2 linked regions of the Homo sapiens genome follow. The protein of the gene in region 2 interacts with the protein of the main gene of each other region in a pairwise test. Each region holds a gene or a part of one and is shown on either strand. Other genes may lie near its edges.

Region 1 (3,749 bases), on a different chromosome or scaffold from region 2:
ATCCATGAACTTCAGTTTGCCCATCTCTAAAATGGGCTACTAATAATTCCTATCTCAGAGGATTCAGTAGAATCCAGTACTTCTGTGTCTGTCTCTCTTTTTTCCTGTCTGTCTGTCATTGTCTCTCTTTTCTGTTCTGTTTTTCTGACTTCTTCAACTTTCCCATCCTCATACCTATCTCTGACTCTGCCTTCCTTCAGCTTGTCCATTTATCTCCGTTCCTCTGAATCCACTGTGTCTTGGCTGGGCGCAGTGGCTCACGCCTGTAATCCCAGCATTTTGGGAGGCCGAGGTGGGTGGATCACTTGAGGTCAGGAGTTCGAGAGCAGCCTGGCCAACATGGCAAAACCCCATCTGCACTAAAAATTAAAAAAAAATTAGCCAGGCGTGGTGGTGGGCACCTGTAATCCTATCTACTAGGGAGGCTGAGACAGGAAAATCACTTGAACCCAAGAAGCAAAGGTTGCAGTGAGCCGAGATTGCGCCACTGCACTCCAGCTTGGGTGACAGAGCGAGACTCCATCTCAAAAATAAATAAATAAATAATAAATAAATAAATAAATAAATCCACTGCCCCAAAGTCCTTCCTCAGGTCTGCCCGCACGCCCTGCTGCAGTAGCCCCCTTCTCCCCTGCTTCTCCCAGAGGCCTCTTCCCCCAGCCCCTGGTCCTCTGGCTCTCCTGGTTGTGGGGCTGGCCCCTCTGTTTCTCTGTCTTTCAGGGATCACTTTGCCACTCCTCACACACCCTGACCTCAGCCATCGCTCTCTCTGCTCTTCCCAGGGATGCCAAGGCCTGCGTGATCCACGGCACCGACCTCAAGGACTTCACCTCCGAGCAAATCGACGAGATCCTGCAGAATCACACCGAGATCGTCTTCGCCCGCACATCCCCCCAGCAGAAGCTCATCATTGTGGAGGGCTGTCAGAGACAGGTGGGCTGCGCTCCCGCAGAGGAGGGGACGGGGCCTTGACTCCTGGGTCCTCACTGAGGCCGGGGCCTGGTTTCCTGGGTCTGAGGGAGGAGGGGCTGGGGGTCTGGACCCCTGGGTCTGAGAGAGGAGGGTCTGGGGGCCTGGACTCCTGGGTCTGAGGGAGGAGGGGGCTGGGGACCTGGACCCTTGGGTCTGAGGGAGGGGGCCTGGACTTCTGGGTATGAGGGAAGAGGGGATAGGGGCCTGAACTCCTGGGTCTGAGGGAGGAGGGGGTGGGGGCCTGGACCCTTGGGTCTGAGGGAGGAGGGGCTGGGGGCCTGGACCCCTGGGTCTGAGGGAGGAGGGTCTGGGGGCCTGGACTGCTGAGTCTGAGGGAGAAGGAGGCTGGGGGCCTGGACCTCTGGGTCTGAGGGAGGAGGGTCTGGGGGTCTGGACCCCTGGGTCTGAGGGAGGAAGGTCTGGAGGCCTGAACTCCTAGGTCTGAGGGGAAGAGGAGGTTGGGGACCTGAACTTCTAGGTCTGAAGGAGGAGGGGGCTGGGGTCCTGGGCTTCTGGATCTGAGGGAGGGGACTCTGGGGACTGGCCTCTGGGTGTCATCCTTACCCTCTCTCCCTCCAGGGTGCAATTGTGGCTGTGACCGGGGATGGTGTGAACGACTCCCCCGCTCTGAAGAAGGCCGACATTGGGGTGGCCATGGGCATCGCTGGCTCTGACGTCTCCAAGCAGGCAGCTGACATGATCCTGCTGGACGACAACTTTGCCTCCATCGTCACAGGGGTGGAGGAGGGTGAGTTGGCCAGGGGTGGCCCTGGAGACCAGGGTCACTACCGGAGGCCTGAGACCAGCAAGGGGAACTGGCCAGGGCTGCAGGGGGATGTGTGGCAGAGACCACAGGCCCCCTGGCCCTGGAGGAGCCTGAGCCTGTCCTTTTCTGTCTTCCTCCCCTGTGGGGTCGGGAGCTCCCCTGGGCAGGACTGAGCTGACACACTTCAGGGTCCCTGCGTCATCCAGCCCAGGCCCCATCTGGTGGGTGAAGCTGACTTGGAGGCTTTTTAAAGATATTCTCAGCCAGGGGCGGCAGCCACGCCTGTAATCCCAGCACTTTGGAAGGCTGAAGCAGGCAGATCATGAGGTCAGAAGATCGAGACCATCCTGGCTAACATGGTGAAACCCCGTCTCTACTAAAAATACAAAAAATTAGCCGGGCATTGTGGCGGTTGCCTGTAGTCCCAGCTACTCGGGAGGCTGAGGCAGGAGAATTGCTTGAACCCAGGAGGTGGAGGTTGCAGTGAGCTGAGATTGCGCCACAGCACTCCAGCCTGGGGGACAGAGCGAGACTCCGTCTCAAAAAAAAAAAAAAATTCTCAAGCCCAACCAGGGGGAAGCCAGGGACCCTGGGGGATACCCCCTCTGCCAGCCTGGGCTGGGGGTCAAGGGAGCTTCCCAGAGTGGACAGGGATGGCTGAGCCAAGTCAGGGGCCATGCTGTGACGTCCACATAGACTAGTGCCAGGGAGTCGCAGGCAGAGGAACCGGTACACAGGCAAGGCGGTGTGAGGGGCTGGGTCTGAGGCTGGTGCTGCTGAGCCGACAGGCACCACCTCCTGACAGGCCCAGACAAGGCCACAGAAGGGTTGGTTCACATTCAGATTTATTTTGATCATCAAATTAATTCATGATAATCATAGACAAATGCAGAAAAGCATTCAGGAAAAAAGTAGAATCACCCGTAACCTCGCCATCCAGAAATAATCACGGTTCATGCCTTGGTGGATTTTCTTCCAATTTCTCTCTCCTATTTGAAATGTCTCTGGTGTAAAAAGTAGTTCATGGTAAAAGAGAATTCAAACGGCAAAGCCGAGCCCAGAGTAACAGATTAAATGTCCTCAGCCCTTGTCTCCTATATCCCAGAGGAAACCATGGTTAACACCTTCTTATCTCCCAAGAGACATCTTTTTTTGGGGGCTGGGGGCGGGGATAGAGTCTCAATCTGTCACCCAGGATGGAGTGCAGTGGCACAATCACGGCTAACTGCAGCCTCCACCTCCGGGACTTAATCGATCCTCCTGCCTCAGGCCCCTAAGTAGCTGAGACTACAGGTATGCACCATCACACCTGGCTGATTTTTAAGATTTTGTAGAGATGGGGTTTCGCCATGTTGCCCAGACTAGTCTTTCTTTTTTTTTGAGACAGAGTCTTGCTCTGTCACCCAGGCTGGAGTACAGGCATGCAATCTCGGCTTACTGTAGCCTCCACCTCCTGGGTTCAAGCAATTCTCCTGCTTCAGCCTCCCGAGTAGCTAGAATTACAGGTGCATGCCACCACACCAGGCTAATTTTTGTATTTTTAGTAGAGATGGGGTTTCACCATGTTAGCCAGGCTGGTCTTGATCTCCTGACCTGAAGTGATCCCCGCACCTTGGCCTCCCAAAGTGCTGGGATTGCAGGGGTGAGCCACCTCGCCCAGCGAGGTCTTCAACTCCTGGGCTCAAGCAATCCTCCCACCTTGGCCTCCCAATTTGCTGGGATTACAGGCATGAGCCACCACGCCTGGCCTCCCCAAGACATCTATGCATACACAGTACACACACTGTCTCAGATACAGCCGTCTGCTCCTTCCGAATCTTGTGCATCATGCTGGAAGCCTGGGAGGCAGCTGTGAGCAGAGCAGACACCATCCCTGTTCTCACAGGGCTGGAGAGACAGCCTTAAACAAGTTAACAGATATGTAATTACAAATTGTGATATATGCCCCGAAGAAAGCAGGCCGCTGTGATAGATAATAGTGAGGGTCCTGCCCAGATGGGGTGGACAGGGA
Region 2 (3,749 bases):
GTCTCAAAAAAAAAAAAAAAAAAAAAAAAAAAAAGACGGGAGCAACAATATCTGGCAAATGTGGCCTCCAACAGACATGTAAGAGTAGACCACCACTGGGCATGGTGGCTCACGCCTGTAATCCTAGCATTTTGGGAGGCAGAGACAGGCGCATTGCCTGAGCTCAGGAGTTCGAGGCCAGCCTGGGCAACATGGTGAAACCCCCTCTCTACTAAAATACAAAAGAAATTAGCTGGGCATGGCGGTGGGCGCCTGAAGTCCCAGCTACTCGGAAGACTGAGGCAGGAGAATTGCTTGAACCCAGGAGGCAGAGGTTGCAGTGAGCCGAGATCGTGCCACTGCACTCCAGCCTCGGCGACAGAGCAAGACTTGTCTCTACAAAAAAAAAAGTACAGCACCTAATTAGCTTGGGGGCAAGATATCACAAATATCAAAAGGGGCATTCCACATTTTGAAATATAATCTCTGAGCACAAACTTCAGCACGGGACAAGTCCAACTGTAAGCAAGTTCTACACTGAGCACTGGCTTGAAGTCAATCCTGATTTAAAATTAGTTAATAGGCCGAGAGCAGTGGCTCACACCTGTAATCCCAGCACTTTGAGAAGCCAAGGCGGGTGGATCACCCGAGGTCAGGAGTTTGAGACCAGCCTAGCTAACATGGCGAAACCAGTCTCTGCTAAAAATAACAAAAATTAAAGGGTGTGGTGGCTGATGCCTGTAATCCCAGTGACTCAGGAGGCTGAGGCAGGAGAATCACTTGAACCCAGGAGGCGGAGGCTGCAATCTGCCAAGATCGCGCCACTGAGCTCTAGCCTGGGCAACAGGAGCGAAACTCTGTCTCAAAAAAAAAAAAATCAGTTAATAACTACACCTGAAGAATATAAACTTATCTAGCAGCCACTGGCAAGAAATTTCAAAGTGCTGGTCTTCTGGAAGCAGCAAGCAGCAAACTACCATAAATGAGTCTAAAATTATTATCTTCATTAGGCTTAACCAATGTCTTAAACTACACTGTTAACTAAATTTCCCTCAAAACCTTAAAGGCACCAGAATAAAGCTCAGGATCCCAAGTCTTAAGGACTAGTCCAAGCTCTAACTTTGCTGTGAATAAACCTTCAGTCAGTCATTTAATATGCTTTATTCATTTCTTCTGTAAAATAGAAATGGGCAAGGATATTTCAAGGAATCAAAACTAATAGTGGAAAAATTCAAAGTTCCTAAATGAAACACAGCCAACCTCTTGTTAAGAATTAAATAAAATTATATATGTAAAACTGCTCAAGAATAATGTTTGCCACATTTTAAACACTTAGTGTTAGGAACTGTTATTACACATTAATTTTAGTCAAATAGGAAAAAATATAAAACAACCCGATCAAGAAACTAAATATTTAATAATCCCAATCTTGTCCATTACCTCGGCATTCAAAACCTTGGAATGAAAATAATAGTTTAGCCTACTAGATAATGCAGCAGGAAAAATAAAATTATGATACCTTGGCTGATAGGTGGTTGTGTTTTTTTTTTTTGAAATGGAGTCTTACTCTGACGCCCAGGATGGACTGTGGTGGCGTGATCTCGGCTTACTGCAACCTCCGCTTCCCAGGTTCAAGCGATTCTCCTGGCTCAGCCTCCCAAGTAGCTGGGACTACAAACACACACCACCATGCCTGGCTAATTTTTGTATTTTTAGTAGAGATGGGGTTTTACCATGTTGGCCAGGCTGGTCTCAAACTCCTGACCTGAAGTGATCTGCCCACCTGGGCCTCCCAAAGTGCTGGGATTGTGAGCCATTCATTGCTCCCACCTGTTGATAGGTTGTTTGTTTGTTTTGTTTTGTTTTTTGATGGAGTTTCCCTCGACGCCTACGCTGGAGCGCAATGGCACAATCTCGGCTCACTACAACCTCCGCCTCCGGGGTTCAAGCGATTCTCCTGCCTCAGCTCCTGAGTAGCTGGGATTACAAGTGTGCGACACCACATCCGTCTAATTTTTGTATTTTTAGTAGAGATGGGATTTCACCATGTTGGCCAGGCTGGTCTCAAACTCCTGACCTCAGGTGATCCACCTACTTCAGCCCCCCAAAGTGTTGGGATTACAGGTGTGAGCCACTGAGCCCGGCAGGTTTTTATATTAATATTTTATTAGTTTAAAATAACTTTTCCTTACTCTAGCTGTCATTTTTTTTGTTATTCCTTTCAAATCACAAATTCTTCAGATACATGTCTTTTCCATTTGTTTCAAATATTGAGCAAGCCTGAATATCCAAACATAGAAACATCAGAAATCATAGGTGTATCTCTGAAAAATGCTGTTTTGAGCCCACGGGAATTGTGGCCATTGTACCATTTGCAAATGGAGATAACACCAAAGCGCAAATTATCGAGTCCTAGAAAAACAACAGATGTAGTGGTCAAGAAGCAAGATGTGTGCCAAAGAGGATAAGAAAAAGAAGCCCTGGCTGGACACAGGGGCTCAAGGATGTAATCCCAGCCCTTTGGGAGGCCAAGGTGGGCGGATCACGCGGTCAGGAGTTCAAGACCAGCCTGGCCAACATGCTGAAACCTGGCCTCTACTAAAAGCACAAAAAAAAAAAAAAAAGAAGCCCTAACTCCTCCACTCCCTGGCTACATAATTTTGGGAAAGTCATTTTATCTCTCTGAGCTTCATTCACTTTATCTGTAAAACGGAATAATAGTCTTACTTCTCTCACAGGATGTTTGGAAAGTCAAATGAGGAAACATACTGCAAAGCACTTTATGGCCTAAAAACTGCAATACAAATATATCAATCGGTATTTTGTTGTTGTTGCATGAGCAATGTTCAACATACAGGTTAAGTTACACACTAAACATAGAATTTTCATTTCAAAGTAAACCATTACCATTATTAAAAATTGATATAAAAAACTTGCCTTGGATTGATTTCTCTTTCCACTTCTCATGCTAAACTTCTCCTTCATTTCTTCTAAAATTATCTTCAGTTTCTTTTCTTCAGGTGTTCCTAAGTATTTTTGGTTCACATGAAGATAGCAATGCCATTTAGCTGATTCAAAGCCCCAGTGGCAAGTTCTTTTGTCAGGTGATCTGTGAGAATGCATCACAAACGTCTGGGGTGCAAACATTCCACAACACTCCAGACATTGAATACACGGAGCATCAGGCTGAACATAAAACTGGGGTGCAAATAAACCCTGACATTTGCCTAGGCATTCATGCTCCACTTCAAAGGCACTGCCAGTTTCCTTTAACTGGGCCAATGAGCTTTTAGCAGGAAGTACGCTACCATTTTGAGGAAAAGTTCGTGGCCGCAATAAAGCATTACATAATCTTTGTGCATCAGTTAATGTAATCAGCCCACAGGATGGGGCATTGAATGGAAGTATGCCCAGTACCTTTAAGATATGAAGCTGGTCTGAAGTACACCTTGAACAATATATGTACAGTTCATCACACACTGTATTTATTTGCTGGAGTGTAAATTCTCGGAGAACAGAATTTAAGACTTGGGGCAAACAGAGTCTCTTTTCTCCTCCAACTTGAAAACAAGAAATAGATTCCCCTTCCAACACAGTCTGAGTGAGTTCTGTGGAGCTATCTGAAGGGATGAGCAATGGGCCAGGAAGAACCTGAGGTGATGGAAGAGGCAGAAATACAGTAGGCGACATGCTTTCTTGGGAATGCCGAGCAGAAAATGCTGCTGGTCCACCCAGCGAGCTCTGACTACTTAAATGGAATTGTGCCAATG

What was found. The genes of interacting proteins can lie anywhere in the genome.
Region 1: the proteins of SKIL (region 2) and ATP1A3 interact in binary tests that used the Homo sapiens proteins (3 or more experiments, as listed by UniProt).

Annotation. Positions count from the first base shown.
Region 1 is NC_000019.10:41,973,600-41,977,348, reverse strand, and holds part of ATP1A3 (sodium/potassium-transporting ATPase subunit alpha-3), read left to right. Parts: intron 1-782; coding exon 783-933; intron 934-1,551; coding exon 1,552-1,720; intron 1,721-3,749. UniProt on the Homo sapiens protein: This is the catalytic component of the active enzyme, which catalyzes the hydrolysis of ATP coupled with the exchange of sodium and potassium ions across the plasma membrane.
Region 2 is NC_000003.12:170,360,597-170,364,345, reverse strand, and holds part of SKIL (ski-like protein), read right to left. Parts: coding exon 2,917-3,749; intron 1-2,916. UniProt on the Homo sapiens protein: May have regulatory role in cell division or differentiation in response to extracellular signals.